Linked DNA regions of Homo sapiens: regions 1, 3 and 4 are each reported to be linked to region 2. The links are microRNA targets in miRTarBase. Many come from high-throughput screens and were not tested one by one. Region 2 holds a microRNA gene; each other region holds the end of a gene's coding sequence.
What was found. Region 2 holds the annotated microRNA hsa-miR-519c-3p (AAAGUGCAUCUUUUUAGAGGAU, at 2,194-2,215, opposite strand). A microRNA usually pairs through its seed, bases 2 to 8, with sites in the 3' UTR of a target mRNA and lowers its output. Matches are read on the target gene's strand: a 7mer-m8 pairs with bases 2 to 8, a 7mer-A1 pairs with bases 2 to 7 and ends in A, and an 8mer does both.

Region 1: the mRNA of POGZ is a reported target of hsa-miR-519c-3p. Seed matches in the 3' UTR shown: 7mer-m8 at 1,557-1,563.
Region 3: the mRNA of SATB2 is a reported target of hsa-miR-519c-3p. Seed matches in the 3' UTR shown: 8mer at 3,125-3,132.
Region 4: the mRNA of BRI3BP is a reported target of hsa-miR-519c-3p. The part of its 3' UTR that is shown has no 7-base or 8-base seed match.

Annotation. Positions count from the first base shown.
Region 1 is chr1:151,401,582-151,405,581 of GRCh38, reverse strand. It overlaps POGZ (pogo transposable element derived with ZNF domain), which reads left to right. Exons shown (of 19, transcript NM_015100.4): 19 at 1-2,858. The coding sequence ends at 780. PSMB4 (proteasome 20S subunit beta 4) reads right to left here. Exons shown (of 7, transcript NM_002796.3): 6 at 3,952-4,000; 7 at 3,645-3,765. The coding sequence ends at 3,753. Among named protein-coding and RNA genes, the nearest start is that of PSMB4, 4.0 kb to the right of the region's middle.
Region 2 is chr19:53,684,488-53,688,736 of GRCh38, reverse strand. It overlaps MIR519C (microRNA 519c), which reads right to left and starts at 2,268; the gene lies at 2,182-2,268. It overlaps MIR515-2 (microRNA 515-2), which reads right to left and starts at 3,728; the gene lies at 3,646-3,728. MIR1283-1 (microRNA 1283-1) reads right to left here and starts at 256; the gene lies at 170-256. The region is part of intron 2 of LOC107985342 (a long non-coding RNA gene); the gene reads right to left.
Region 3 is chr2:199,268,759-199,272,758 of GRCh38, forward strand. It overlaps SATB2 (SATB homeobox 2), which reads right to left. Exons shown (of 11, transcript NM_001172509.2): 11 at 747-3,914. The coding sequence ends at 3,453. Among named protein-coding and RNA genes, the nearest start is that of SATB2, 190 kb to the right of the region's middle. RefSeq lists an enhancer at 3,127-4,000.
Region 4 is chr12:125,024,875-125,028,874 of GRCh38, reverse strand. It overlaps BRI3BP (BRI3 binding protein), which reads right to left. Exons shown (of 3, transcript NM_080626.6): 3 at 1-3,884. The coding sequence ends at 3,445. It overlaps THRIL (TNF and HNRNPL related immunoregulatory long non-coding RNA), which reads left to right and starts at 1,452. Exons shown (of 1, transcript NR_110375.1): 1 at 1,452-3,432.

The sequences.
Region 1 (4,000 bases), not on the chromosome of region 2:
ACAGGGGAACCTTGGTGTGATGTAGTCCTAGCCATTCTGGCAGATGGCACTGTCCTTCCCACCCTGGTTTTCTACAGAGGGCAGATGGATCAGCCTGCTAACATGCCAGACTCCATATTGCTAGAGGCAAAGGAGAGTGGCTACAGTGATGACGAGATCATGGAGCTGTGGTCAACTCGAGTGTGGCAGAAGCACACAGCTTGCCAGCGCAGCAAAGGCATGCTTGTGATGGACTGTCATCGCACTCACTTGTCAGAAGAGGTACTGGCTATGCTTAGTGCCTCTAGCACTTTGCCTGCAGTGGTCCCAGCAGGCTGTAGCTCCAAAATTCAGCCATTAGATGTATGCATCAAAAGAACTGTCAAGAACTTCCTGCATAAAAAATGGAAGGAACAGGCTCGGGAAATGGCAGATACTGCATGTGATTCTGATGTCCTGCTTCAGCTGGTGCTTGTCTGGCTGGGTGAAGTGCTAGGTGTCATTGGGGACTGTCCAGAGCTAGTTCAGCGCTCCTTCCTGGTGGCTAGTGTTCTGCCTGGCCCCGATGGCAACATTAACTCACCTACAAGAAATGCTGACATGCAGGAGGAGCTAATTGCCTCCCTAGAGGAGCAACTGAAGCTGAGTGGGGAACATTCTGAGTCTTCCACTCCACGACCCAGATCATCTCCTGAAGAGACAATTGAGCCTGAAAGTCTTCACCAGCTCTTTGAGGGTGAAAGTGAGACCGAGTCTTTCTATGGCTTTGAAGAAGCTGACCTAGATCTGATGGAGATTTGAGTGTTGGGGTCATGAGGGGGTGTGGAGTGAGGGTGGGAACATGTGAGGGAGGGTAAAGGGGCTTAGGGAAAAGGGGGCATACCAGGTGGGGTATTTGGTTTCTATTTTTTAATTTTATACCACCACTCCCCCCTGAAGTTGACTTACACTTCCCTGTGGATTTGTGGATTAATTAGGAAAACCAATAGTAATCACGTCTGAGCCAAGGAGCTGGCCCATTGGTCATTCACTTCTGCTAAAAACAGGTTTTTGTGACTTTTTTTTTTTTTAAATTTAAATCACTGTGTTTGGTATTTTTCTGACAAAATTAAGAAAAAGAAAAAAAATTATTTGTGGGCAAATGTTAAATTTTTTTGTTTCCCCTTTTACCTCAATTGTATCATAGTACTGGGTTTTTTTGTTTGTTTTATTGTGTGGCCAATGTCTTTGGGCATGATGCTATCTAATCATTGTTAATGTGAGAACATTTCTGAAGATGGGAAAGACAAATTATGTAGCTCACAAACTGGTTTATTATATATATGGATAAAAAACTTTTTTCATTGTGGTCTTAACACTTTTATATAAAAATGAAAATGGAAAAAAAGTCCCACTGAACTCTCTCTTCCTTCTCCTTTTCTTTCCTTCCCTCTCCAGAGATGTTGGTTTCTACAGCAACCCTAGATATAAAATTGTGGCTTTAAAAATGCATGAAACCACCTTTAATTATCCAGAATGAATAGATTTGTCTTTTCCTCACCACCTTCCCTCCAAAACATGACATAAACAATATTTTTTGCACTTGTGATCCTTGGCCCCTTTCCCCATTCTCAACACCATCCATCCCTCTGGACAAAGGATCATACAGGTGTTATTAGCAAGCAAGAGATACTGAAGCGATCAAACAGTTTTAGGGTGGAAGCCATTCCCAGTTTGAGTCTTCATCCTGTAAGCCCCCAGGGGCAGTCCCTGCTTTACTGAACTTCATCCTGTTAGATGGAGAGCATGCCTGTTTAAGGGATTACTGGTCCTACAGCCAGGAGCTAATTGTTCAAGAAGTGTTGAACTTTAAAAAGACAAGACCACTTGTTGAAATCCAGCGTGCTCTGTGGCTTTCCCCTATTTCTCTTAATACTTAGGGAAGAATCTGACAGGAAGAAGCGCACAGGGGTGTGCACAAAGAAAATGACATGAATCTTTATTTTTCACTGCCAGCTTCAAGGAAAGAAAATTTTTTCTACAATTTGCATGAGGGATTTTTTTAATTGTATGTACTCATGGTTGTAAACCAAAACGTACTGTACCGTACAGAGAAAAGGAGCAAAAAACCAAGTCTTCTGTTTATCCTGAGGCTTTCCACAATGTTCCCCTCCTGTGAGCCAAGGAGGCAAACTGCACAAGCTTGTAAATGGTTCGTCTTTAAAATGTACATAAGTGGAACATTTAATAAAATGAGGGGAAATGGATTTATAAACTTGTTTTTTTTCTAGGTGACCCTGTTTAATAGGCTTTCACAGACTGGGGAATGCTCAAGATGTGATGGGCCTGGTGGTACAGGTGTGACATTTGTTACCACCCATTTCTCCCACCCCACCCTGCTTTTTTGTTTGTTTGTTTTTTCATCCCCCAGCACACTATAATATAGTGAACTGGAAAAGTCCCTTCCAGAAACAGCTTGGCCAGCTTTGTGAACCTTTGACATCTGAAAACAACCAAGGATCCATCTGGGCTTCTCTTCCCCAGCTTTTTGCCTGATGCCATTTTATTGACAGACAATGGACTTTGAAGTCAGCCTTTGCCTTTGAGAAAGTTCAAGAACTATGGTTGGTCACGTCTATCTACAACCTAATCCTACTCTTTGGTAGTCTCTGCAGCAGCCACAGCCTTAGCAGAGCTGGGGTTCCTGTCTTCTGCACACGATTGACTTTCTTGATGGGTAATTTTTTTTAAGATTATACCAACAGTGGATCAGCTGGGTTTTGGCCAGGAAGTTGTCTTTGTGGACTCTGCCTGCATGGCTTAGTAGTAGAAGGAAATTTTTTTTTGGTTTTGTTTTTTATAATTCAGTTTAATCAATAAACATGTATTTATTGACTGTTTCCTGTGTTGAGACTGAATGTGTGGAGGTTTCAGATTGAAAGCTCATTGTTTGGCTTTACAAGTTTGTTGTTAACGGACAATGCAAATGGAGGGATGGTTTTATTTTTTCCTTCAGTTCTCACTGAATTTCTGTACTTTGAATTTGCTGCCTATATTTTCTTTCTCAAGAAGTTTGGAGAGGATTTGTGTCAGAATCGCCTACAGTGTTCATTTTAAAAATTCAAGCTGGGCATGATGGCTCATGCCAGTAATCCCAGCACTTGGGAGGCTGAGGCAGGAGGTTGCTTGAGCTCAGAAATTCAAGGCTGTAGTAGGCTATGATCATGCCACTGCACGCCAGCCTGGGCAACAGAATGAGACTTTTGTCTCTAAAATATTCAGGTTTAGAACCATTCCAGGGATGGCTGATGCCCCAGCTGACTTGAGGGCAACCTGATGCAGAATAGTTCTACTAGATTATTTTTAAAGTGGTATTTTAATGAAAATCACAGCCAACATTAAGAAATCTGTATTTGATAATCCAGTGCAGTGGAGGAAGATTTGGGAGGGGAATTTGAACACAAAAGCCAGTTAGCACACAAAAATTAAGTCTGGCTTCTACAGGAAGCTCTGCTTCTAATACAGCTCCAAATGACGCTAGTGTGTCTTTCTGTGTTGTGCAGAGAGAATTTCTGTGTGTGCTGCAAGACCACAAGGGTTCTCCGACCAGGGAGGGAGATGGCACATGGCAGTACTCAGCAGTTTTGCACTTGGTGTGACCCAGTCAGACAAAAACCACTCAGCAAGCATTTTGAAGAATTTATTTACTTTACAAAAGAAGAGTCTATCTTTGAACTAGCCAAGTTCAAAGTTAAAAGTAGGGCAACTTCAGTTCTGGATAATGCATCTGTATTTCATTCAAAGCCACTAAAAAAGGAAGACAGAATAATAAAATTGTGAAGCATAAAGGGATCAATTCCTAAAAATAGCTGTACTGTCCAACCAAAACTTTCCACCCAGAAAATTTTCCTGGGTGAGCCTCCCAGAAAAGCCCAGCTTAGTGTAAGCCAAAGACCTCCCAAGTCTGTCACCAATTTTTTCCCTATTACTCACCTGATCATGTGGGCAATATCCCAGTTGGTCTCTGTAGACAATGGTCCCT
Region 2 (4,249 bases):
GAGCCCAAGAGAGCTAGGTTGGAAGTGCCACCGCACTCCAGCCTGGGCAACGGAGACCCTGTCTTAGAAAAACACAAAACCAAAACATAACCCCGCTATCATCCAAGTCTGATGATAAGCATGCTCTGCAAATGTATTACCAAGATCAGCATCAACTTCAACACTGCTTTTCTCAAACCGTAACCCTCAAAAGGGAAGCGCTTTCTCTTCTTTCTGACAACAGAAAGCGCTTTCCTTTGTAGACTCATAGCTTGAGATCTTCTTGCTCCAGCACTCTGGGTTTCGTGTTGGAATTTTCTTTGACCAGGTTTAAATGGACAGAAAAATAAAGATGCATTTAGTGGCCCTGTTTGCATGTTTTCTGGAATCCAGAATAAAACGCCTGAAAAGGACCATCTCCAGTTCCTTGCTTCAAAGGCTCAGCAGGTTAGCCTTGTTCATCAAGGGACAATCCTCCCGAGTTTTGTTCTCAAACAGAAAAAGCAATGCCTACTAGACATACCTTATACTTAACCAAGAGAATTGGACTGGATTTCCAGAGAACAGCAAATGGATTCTGAGCCAAGTGTTCATTTGAGTTCCAGTGCGGAGACACACAGTCCCATTGGAAACATCCAAAATGTGATCTAAGATGTTGAACTATATACATTGTCGCACACACAAACATCCTCCAGGATAGACCACAGGCTAGGTGGTAAAAGCTCCTCAATAAAATTTGAACAGGAATACACAAGTACCAGTTGGGTGTGGTGGCTCATACCTCTAATCCCAGCACATCAGGAGGCCAAGGCAGGAGATTCACTTGAGCTCAGGAGCTCAAGACCAGCGTGTACAACACGGTGAAACCCTGTCTGTAAAAAAATACAAATGTAGGCCAGGTGTGGTGGTACATGCCTGTAGACACTAATTCAGGAGGCTGGGGTGGGAGGCGAAGGTTGCAGTGAGCCAAGACTGAAACACTGCACTCCAACCTGGGCGACTGAGCCAGATCTTGTTGCAAAAAAAAATTTAAAAGAACACACAAGCAAAAACCACCCCAAAGTGATATCAGTCATCTCTGTGTGTAGAAGAGTATTTTTTGTGTATATAATTATATATATGGCTATATGATGAAATATACATCATATATAATATATATATACACACAAACACACCCATATATATATTTTTTTTTTTGAGACAGAGTCTCTCTCTCTATATAAATATATATGTATATATATATTTTTTTTTTGAGACAGTCTTATTCTCTCGCCCAGGCTGGAGTGTGGTGGCGTGATCTTGGCTCACTGCAACCTCCATCTGTCCGTTCAAGTGATTCTCCTCCCTCAACTTCCCCAGCAGATGGGAATACAGGCGTGCGCCACCATAGCTGGCTAATTTTTTGTATTTTTAGTAGAGACAGGGTTTCACCATGTTGGTCAGGCTGGTCTCAAACTCCTGACCTCAAGTGATCCACTCGCCTCAACCTGCCAAAGTGTTGATATTGCAGGCATGAGCCACCGCTCATGTCGTATACACACAAAAACTGCTCATATACTCATGCGCCTGGCTGTACATCATTTATTTTCCAGACCCTATCTCAAAAAAAAAGAAAGTTCCATATACTGTATGCTCACATAAAGAATTACTCCTACACATAAATGTTTGCTCCACACATAAGAAATGAATGGAGTGACAGAGATCACCATGGCCCCTGTGCAGAGGTGATGCCCAAATTCATGATGGGTCTCATATTGAAAATTAAGATCAAAGGCCGGGTGCAGTGGTTCATGACTGTAAACCCAGCACTTTGGGAGGCCGAGGCAGGTGGATTACGAGGTCAGGAGATGGAGACCATCCTGGTCAACACGGTGAAACCCCATCTCTGCTAAAAATACAAAAATTAGCCGGGCGTGGTGGCATGGGCCTGTACTCCCAGCAACACAGGAGACTGAGATGGGAGAACCACTTCAACCCGGGAAGGGGAGATTGTAGTGAGCAGAGATCGTGACCCTGCAAAGAGGACCACCTGAGCCCAAGAGAGCTAGGTTGGAAGTGCCACTGCTCTCCAGCCTGGGCAAAAGAGACCCCGTCTTAGAAAACAAACAAACCAGGAACAAAAGCCCACCCTCATCCAAGTCTGATGATAAGCACGCTCTGCAAATGTATTGCCGAGATCAGCATGAACGTTAACGTTGCTTTTCTCAAACTGTAATCCTCTAAAAAGATGCACTTTCTTTTCTTTCAGACAACAGAAAGCGCTTCCCTCTAGAGGGTCACAGGCTGAGATCTTCTTGCTCCAGCACCATTGATTTTTTGTTGGAATTTTCCTTGACCAGGTTAAAATGGACACAAAAATAAAGATGCATTTATTGGCCCTGTTTGCATGATTTCTGGAATCCAGAACATAAACCCCTATCAGGGCCATCTCCAGTTCCTTGTTTCAAAAAGCAATGCCGACTATACATACCTTATATTTAACCATGAGAATTGGGCTGGATTCTAGAGAACAGCAATAGATTTTGAGCTAAGTGTTCACTCGAGTTCCAGTACAGTGACACACAGTCCCGACGGGGGCATCCAAAATGGAATCTACGATGTTGAAGAATATGCATTGTCACACACACAAACACCCTCCAGGAGAGACCACAGGCCAGGCTGTAAAAGCTCCTCAATAAAATGAGCAGAAACACACAGGTACAGGTGAGGTGTGGTGGCTCACACCTCTAAACCCAGCCCTTTAGGAGGCTGAGGCAGGAGTATCACTTGAGTTCAAGAGTTTGAGACCAGCCTGGGCAACATGGTGATACCTCATGTGTAGAGAAAACAGAAAAGTTAGCCGGGCGTGGTGGTGTGCGCCTGTAGACAGCTACTCAAGAGGCTGAAGTGGCAGGTGGAGGTTGCAATAAGCTGAGATGGCACCACTGCACTCTAGCCTGGGTGACAGACCCAGACCTTATCTAAAAAAAAAACAAAAACATACACACACAAACAAAAAATTACCCAAAGTGATACGAGAGTATTCTCTGTGTATAGAAGAGTGTTTTGTGTGTATATGACTATGTTACATGTATAATAAGAATATGATAAAATATATATTTTTGAGACCGTACATCAATAAAAATTAAGTTCCATATACTATGTGCTCACATGAAAAATAATTCCTACACATATGTGCTTGCATTGGCAGCACACATTAAAAAAAATTGGAGGCTAGGCTGGGTGGCTTACACCTATAATCTCAGCATTTTGGGAGGCTGAGGCAGGCGGATCACCTGAGGTCAGGAGTTGGAGACTAACCTGGCCATCATGATGAAACTGCATCTCTGCTAAAAATGCAAATATTAGCCAGGCGTCGTGGCACGTGCACCTGTAATCCCATCTACTTGGGAGGAGAGGTTGCAGTGAGCAGATAACATGCCACTGCGCTCAAGCCTGGGCCAGAGACAGAGACTCTGTTTCAAGAAAAAAAAAAAAAGCAAGCACGGGACCACTTGAGCCCAAGAGATCTAGGTTGGAAGCGCCACCGCACTCCAGCCTGGGCAACAGAGACCCCATGATGCAAAACAACTAAACAAAAACAGAACCCCAACATCATGCAAGTCTGATGATAAGCACGCTCTGCAAATGTGTTACCAAGATCAGCATCAACTTCAACGTGGTTTTTCTCAAACAGTAACGCTCCAAAAGAAGGCACTCTGCTTTCAGACAACAGAAAGTGCTTTCTTTTGGAGAATGACTGCATGAGATCTTCTCGCTCCAAAAGTCTGGGTTTTTTGACGGAATTTTCCTCACCTGGTTAAAATGGACACAAAAATAAAGATACATTTATTGACTCTCTCTGCATGTTTTCTGGAATCCAGAATATAAACCCCTAAAAGGACCATCTCCAGTTCCTTGCTTCAAAGGCTCAGCAGGTTAGCCTTGTTCATCAAGAGACAATCCTCCTGAGTTCTGTCCCCAAAGAGAAAAAGCAATGCCTACCACACATACCTTATATTTAACCATGAGAATTGGGCTGGATTTCTAGAGAACAGCAATGGATTTGAAGCCAAGTGTTCACATAAGTCCCAGTACAGGGACACACAGTCCCCATGCAAGCATCCAAAATGGAATCTAAGATGATGTTTAAGAATATACACTGTTGTACACACATTCTCCAGGATAGAACACAGGCTAGGCCATAAAAGCTCCTCAATAAATTTTTTTTTTTTTTTTGAAACAAGTCTCACTTTGTTGCCCAGGCTGTAGTGCAGGGCCGTGATCTCAG
Region 3 (4,000 bases), not on the chromosome of region 2:
CTACATGGTTCATGGGCTGTTAAAAAAGGTAAGGGAAACCGAGGAAGAAAGAGAAGTTACATCTGTATGTCAATCAAATGCAGAAAAATGGAAAAAAAAATAAACAGGAAAAACATTTACAATATCAAAAGAAAACAAAATCACTTTTTAATTTACTTTTTCTTTGCCAGTTCTGAAGCGAAGCACTTGCTCTTTCCTTATTAACATTAGTCTTTTGAGCAGTTTTTTCCATTGTAAGTACTTTCTAAAAAATCATTTTCACACATTTCTCAGATACATCAATCCTTTCAGCATTCCTCCATGCACACATTATGGTACCCCAGCTCTAAATATAAAAGACTTTTATTATGTCCATTAACCATGGACATATGTGCTCCAAAAGTTTCCTGACACGCAGTCATTTGTGGTTTTTTAATTATAAACAGAAAATATTCACTAGAAAAATAAAACAGCAGCCTATAAATATATCTTTATACATTTGAGTTTTGTTTGTATATGACAAAAGATTGGATAAAGGAAGTGAGCATGCATGTGTTTATATACACACAGAGACACACATACATTCACATGTGCTATTAAATCCATGCACTGTACAGGACTCATATATCTGTAATTGCAGGTACCACTGTCTTGTTTCTAAAATAAGGGTACAAATTTTCCTAAGACTCACCAGGTCTCTCTCTGCATGAAAAATTAAGTGGGAAAGCAGATAATGCCCAGTAAAATAACTGACAAACAAAGTCATATTTATTGAATGCGTTTATTTTAACAACCAAAAAATTCTAACAGCCTAACAATGCACATAAGTTAAAAATTAATTATCACTTAGTGATAACAAAGATAGTTGATTTACATGGAAAAAAGAACATTTACAATATGTTAATCCTTATTCACATTGTTGATACCGCAATAAAACACAATTTGTTTTTTTCATTTCACAAAAAAAAAAAAAGGCGGGAAATTGTGCTTTGTCAAGAGGCACTACAAGAGAAAGTTTCTTCTTCCAAATAGATATTATATGACAGATATTGAATAAATAGACATATATGCATTGTAATTCGCAAAGATCTGGCAAGACCACAGGCTAAAATGCCCACAGATTCACTTAGAACCACTGCAAACTTGGCAGTGAAATTAAAAAATAAAAGGCAAGACTTAGCATTGAAAAATACCTAATAAATTTTTGGTTGAAGTGTAAAAGATACCAAATGCGGATGCCATCGATAGATGAACCACCTTGTAAGAGCTTGGCAAAATCAGTTTCCATTACGTGTACAGAGTGACCTTCAGCAACAGTGTAAGAAGACAATTTGGAAAGAGTAACTCGGAGATCAGGAAGCAGCAACCATGGACTTTCTGATTAAAGCTGCAGCATACTACAGAAATAGGAAGGATGGGGCCAGGGCTAACTGCAAACAACCATCCTTTTGCAAAGGTATATGACGCTTATGTCAAGATAATTTTTAAACATCATTATTTGAAAAAGTACAGGAAAATGTCCCTTTAAAAACTCCAGAGGTTACTGAGCAGCTAGAATTAGCTTGTATTGCAACATGTCTTCTCCCTGTATATTGTAAGTTCTGAGTTAATATCTACACATAGAGGTTTTTTTTTTAACTCCTACCTTTTATACCTTTCAAATATATAAATAGTATTAACAGTTATATTACAATGTTTGTGTAGTAAACAGAAAATAACTTTCAAAGTGATATTGCATGAGGTCTTTGACAAGGTTTTGTGAAAGCACAACTCAAAAAAAAAAAAAAAATCCAACCATGTGGGACTGTTTAATGGCCAGTTTAAAGCATGGATTACGTTCACTAGGCCAGTCCTGAATGTGAGGTCTCCTCTTGCAATTACTGTAAGTAGAAGTGGAAAGTAATGCTTCTGGTGTTTCTCATAGGAAGCCGAAAGAGATCTGGAGTACTATAGTAGATTGCAGCTTTAATGCTCATCCCATTAAACATCCAGTCAGCATTAGTTCTGCTTTACATAAGGTAATTGCGATGTAGGTAACTGGGATAATGTTTTCTTTTAGGATGAGTAAGTGATTCTACTGAAATCGCTTCACATACTCTATTGCCTGGAGCTGCACAACGATTCAAAAACAGTTCTTGTTAGGGCTGTCATCCCAGGAAAAGGGACAGGAGAGATCAGGGACTGAAAATGTTTGATTAGGTAGATGGAATGTGTACGAAGAAGAGGAAGCCCAAAGTGAAGCAGAAATCAGAAATGTCTTTTGGGAGAGGGAAGGATGGAGATTTATTTGAGAGGGAGCCCCTTTAACTGGGCAGCAACTTCTTTTCTAACTTAATATTACACTGAACTATTTTCTAGTAAAAAACAAAAAGACAAAAAAACAGCAACAACAAACAACTTTTAAACGAGCAGGCTTATTAATTTTCAGATTTGAAGCCACAAGCAGGTAAATAAATTTCACAACAAAATGTGGCTCATACTATGAATTCCATATGTCCAATGTCAAAATGTCATTTGATCAAGACTTGCACTAGTGGACAAAGTTTTCTCTGCACTGAATTTCAGTTTTACTTATTTGGAATTCCACAGAAATGCATCTGTTCACTACAGTAATGACAAATTGAATAACGGAACGTAGCAAGTCATTTTATTGAGTCATTTTAAGTGTGCATTGTGTCTTTAAGATTTATTTGACTTGTATCATTTTAATGTGCCCTGATTGTTTTCACTTCACTTTTTTTTTTTTCGGCAGTGTCGTTTATTTTGTTAAATACATACCTCAAAAATTACCCATTAAGCTGCCAGATAGGAAGCCATAGAATTAAAAAAAAAAAATCAGGGACAAACACAAAAAATAAATAGGAATTCAAAAATAGTCACCCCACCCTGAGAGCAGGCCGCAGTTTATCAAAAAGCCAAAGCGACTCACTGTGAAGTGGTTTTTTTAATACATAAACAAGTCTTTTCTTTAAGAACTCATTTCACAGTCTATTCTTTCGGATTGCAAAGTCTCTGTCCCATGCAATTTTAATATATATATGTAAATATAGAGATATATACATATACATATACACACACACTTGTAGCTTCCTTCATTTATTTCATAGTTCTTTTCATCCTGGTACTTGCCTGATGTAACTTCCGTTAAGTGCAAGGATAATGAAGGCAGAGTCTCCTGTGATTATAATGACTATGATCCAGTCATAGAGACGGGATAAAGTGTAACGCTTTAGTGTCTTTGCCAAGGCGATGTCTGATTCGGAAATACTGAACTTATTCAGTCTATAGGTGTATCCTGTGCAACAAAGAAATGTCCAAAAGGGTAAGAAAAACAAAACAGACATAAAAAGACAAAAATAAAGCCAAAAAAACCCAAAAACAAAAACAAAAAACAAACTAACAAAAAACTTTTAAAGAAATGAAAGCAGAAAATCCTTGGACCGATGTATTGCTTTGCCTAGTAGAAGTTCACATTATCTCTGGTCAATTTCGGCAGGTGCTGCCTTGCTTTTGTCAGCATTTTCCTCCTCAGCCTCCACTTTGTACATCTCCTCGGAGCCTTCCTCGCTGTCGTTCTCCTCTGACTCGGTCAGCAGCTCCTCGTCCTTATATTCAGCCACGTCCACCGCGGAGCCCAGGTGCTCTTTCAGCTTCCCGTGGTGCTTCACGTGGTACCGCTGGTTCTGGAAGAACTTGATGATGGTGTGTTTGGGGAGATCCAGCTGAGCCGAAAGAGTGTGGATGGCTTCCTGGTCTGGGTACAGGCCTACATCATGAATAAAGCTTTGGAGGATCCCCAGGGCTTCTAAGGAGATCTTTGTGCGAGACCGGGGCTTTTTGGCACAACTGTCTTCAGTCGGAGGAGGTGGGGGAGGCGCTTCTTCTCTGGGAGGGGAACTCTCCTTGGCTGGCTGAGACTGCTGTCTATGAAGTACCTGATAATTAAGAGAGAAAAAAATGAACACTGGACTCATGATTTTACCTTTCCAAAACCATCAGCCCTCTGAAATATGTGTTATCT
Region 4 (4,000 bases), not on the chromosome of region 2:
AAAATACATTTTTCCACATACAAAAGAGAGAAAAAAACAAAGACATGTGGCGGGTGGCGAGGGGAGGCCCAATCCCAACACCCTACAAGGTTCCATGGAATGGAGAAGGAACAAAAAAATCCCCAATTATTTTGGGGTAAGATGTGCCCCAGAAAAGGTGAAATCTATGCAATAAAACCCAGGTTTTCTTCAAATCTAGCATCTAGGATTTCTATCAGAGTTTCAAATAATCAGAATTTCTATCAGAATTTCTACCCTGAGGTGACACCTACTAACTGTAGGTTCTTTCATTAAAAATGAAGACATCTTTCACCAGAATGTATCAAGCTATAAAACTGGCTTCAGAGCCTACACTTAGCCAGAGTGGAAAAAAAAAATAGTGCATATTTTCGACAGCAATTTTGAATTGATGCTTGAGGTCTCAATCCACCAGCACCCAGATATCATGTTACCTCCCTCAGTTGAATACAAGTTAAAATGATGATCTTATCGAGATCTCAATAGAGCACAGTGCCCTTCATGTTTCGGGTAAGAGGGTGGGAGGAGGAATGAAGCGGGTATTACACCCAGCCCAGTGACAGCTTAAGCCTTAACATGCGGGCATCTTACAATGACCATAAACAAGGGAGGGGCCAAGGCAGGGCTGGCGATCATTAGCTTTGCGCACAGAATGCCATGTTTTCCCCTGGCCAACATAAGCAAAGCTGTTTTAGTACCTAAACGTGGTATAGCCAAATGCACAAAAGGAAAGAAGATAGAGATGACCTCCCGAGTTATTTATACCTTGTGCTAAAATAGATTCATCTACAAGTATCTAAATGACAAAACTAGAATGATTTCAACCCAGTAATCCTGTGTTCCAATGTGCATGGATAAAGATTTGATCTAGGCCCAGCGCGGTGGCTCACGCCTGTAATCCCAGCACTTTGGGAGGCCGAGGCGGGCGGATCACGAGGTCAGGAGATCGAGACCATCCTGGCTAACACGGTGAAACCCCGTCTCTACTAAAAATATAAAAAATTAGCCGGGCATGATGGTGGGCGCCTGTAGTCCCGGCTACTTGGGAGGCTGAGGTAGGAGAATGGCGTGAACCCAGGAGGCGGAGCTTGCAGTGAGCCGAGATGGTGCCACTGCACTCCAGCCTGGTTGACAGTGAGACTCCATCTCAAAAAAAAAAAGATTCGATCCAGCAAATAATTTTTTTTGAGACGGAGTCTCACTCTGTTGCTGAGGCTAGAGTGTGGTGGTATGATCTCAGCTGACTGCAACCTCCGCCTCCCATGTTCAAGCGATTCTCCAGCCTCAGCCTCCCAAGTAGCTGGGATCACAGGCGCCCACCACCAGGCCTGGCTAATTTTTGTATTTTTAGTAGAGACGGGGTTTCACTCTGTTGGCCGGGCTGGTCTCAAACTCCTGACCTCAGGTGATCCACCTGCCTTGGCCTCCCAAAGTGTTGGGATTATAGGGGTGAGCCACCCTGCCCAGCCTGCTCCAGCAAATCTTAAATATCCATGCACACTGAATAAACATGCACCTGAAACAGGTGCACGTTTCAGGAAGTGAATGGAACTCTCCAGGAGAGTTTGGGTCCCATCATGTGTACCTTAGAAACAGAAGTCTCAAAAGTCTCAACAACATCCACAAAAACATCTGCATCTGTTTTCCAGATACTTGCAACCAAAAATAAAACTTCACAGGAACACTACACAAGAAGTGGTAGACAGCTAAATCTTCTCCAAACTGAGACCTGGACCATAAGGTCTTGGTTGTAGCAGGTCTGGCAGGGGTTATCTATAAACCTGCACGCAGGGCACTGTGAGCGGGTTGCCAGGGTACATCTGTGGCCAGGTAAGGGCCACAGAGACAGTCGTGATCCCCAGCAGCTTCAAAGCTGCAAAATGCTGGGCTTTTTTTTTTTTTTTTAAGATGAAGTCTTGCTCTGTTGCCTAGGCTGGAGTGCAGTGGCGTGATCTCGGCTCACCGCAACCTCCACCTCCCAGGTTCAAGCAATTCTCCTGCCTCAGCCTCCTGAGTAGCTGGACTACAGGCACCCACCACCATGCCTGACTAATTTTTGTATTTTTAGTAGAGACGGGGGTTTCACCATGTTGGCCAGGCTGGTCTTGAACTCCTGACCTCAGGTGATCCATACTCCTCGGCCTCCCAAAGCGCTGGGATTACAGGCATCAGCCACTGCGCCTGGCCTAGGGCTTTCTTTTTTAAAAAACAAGTCCTAACAAAAGGGGGTTTCTACCAGCCCCTGAGCCACACCTTCTGAAACTCCCTTGCCCAGGATCCCCACAGCTGTCCACCTCGCAAGTCCCACTCTCTGCCCACAGAGACTGCCTAAAAGGAGGACACAACAGATTTCAGATAAAAAGCACCTGTGTATCGTAAATATTTCAGGAAAAAGAATTCAGATCTTTTCAAAGGCTTGCTTATTGCTGCTAATTGTTCCTGAGGATCTTTCTAAGCAGCAATATACTTGAGAATATTAGCTGCTACTGTTTGTTTTCCCTCTAAGGTCCTGAGGAAATCAAAAGAAAAAAAAAAAAACCCTCAAGGGTATAGCTTTTGTATATAGCCCTAGTGAGCAAACTGCAAATTGGGACATGCAGTAGATTCTGGAGCAATCTCCAATCCTTACCAGGTACTTCCTGGCATCAAATCCCCAGGACATTTCTTGGCCCCTCCTTGCATTTTCCGTTTCAAAATGTTGAGGTTAAAATACATCGAAGCACAGAGGGAAGAAAATCTCAGGTCTTCTAGAAATGGCGATGTCTTCATTTAAAAATAGGACTGATGGGGGCTTGGCAGGGGTCTCTAGGATCCAAAAGAGGTTGAGTTGCATCCTGCAGCCCAACTGTCCACATTTAGAAGTGACAACATTCATGAACTAAGTCAACATCCACCAAAAATAACATGAAATAAAGCTCACAGTTTGGGAACATGAAAATAACGCACACAGACCTCACCCACCAATCCCTAAGCTGTGAAAACAAACGCTCGCATTTAAACTTTTCTCAAATGTCAAATTAGCATATTCTTCCCCTCCATGTAAAGTTTTAATAAACTTGACTCAATCTGCCTTTATTAAAAAACCTTACAAAAGATGTATTTAAATGCTTGAAAAAATTAACTTTATGCTCTATGCACAGATAAATTTCTCTTACTGTACAACTAAATATGGTTATATCCTTTGTTTAAAAAATATTTTTTCCCCCACTAATTACACTTCGTGTGTAGTTCCACGTCAATGATCTTTCCGCTCTTCTGGGAATGTGTCCTAAGAGCTGCCGGGTGGGTGGAAATAGCCCTACACAGCGCCACTTTCTTGCTCAGTCGTGTTTATTAAGATTGTTTGGGGTTTGGGGTTTTTTTCCTCCGTTTTCGTTTTCTGAGACAGCGTGCTGGTAACTGTGGACCCGCCCGGCCGGCTGACCTTCACTTGTCCTTGGAGCGGTCCAGGCTCTCGAGCACCCGGTTGAGACGGATGTTGAGCAGTCTGACCTGCTTCTCCAGGTGCTCCAGCTTCTCCTCCACGCTGGGGTTGCTGGGGTTGCTGGGGCCGCTGGGACTGCTTCGCCAGTAGAAGCCCATGGGCCCGGTCATGAAGTAGACGGCCACCACGAAGCACAGCGGCAGCACCGCGTTCTCCGGCTCGCCCTCGTACTTGTGCAGGATGTACACGCAGGACATGGAAAACAGGACGACCCGCACGATCCAGAAGAAGCGGCCGAACACCACGTGCAGGACGCTGAAAGTGAAGCCCAGGGTCAGGGACAAGAACCAGTAGGCCAGGAGGACGACGCCGACCAGCAGGAGCGCGCGGGCCGGGCTGCTGGACACCGAGGCTGGGCTGAAATACTGGGACAGGTTGGAGACTGCGGGACAGAAAAGAGGAACAGGGCTCGTTACGCAGGGGCCAGGGGTTTCTTAACAAGCTAGAATTGGATAGTTGAGCTGGCCTGTGGGGCTTAAAAGGCCTTTGCAACAACCA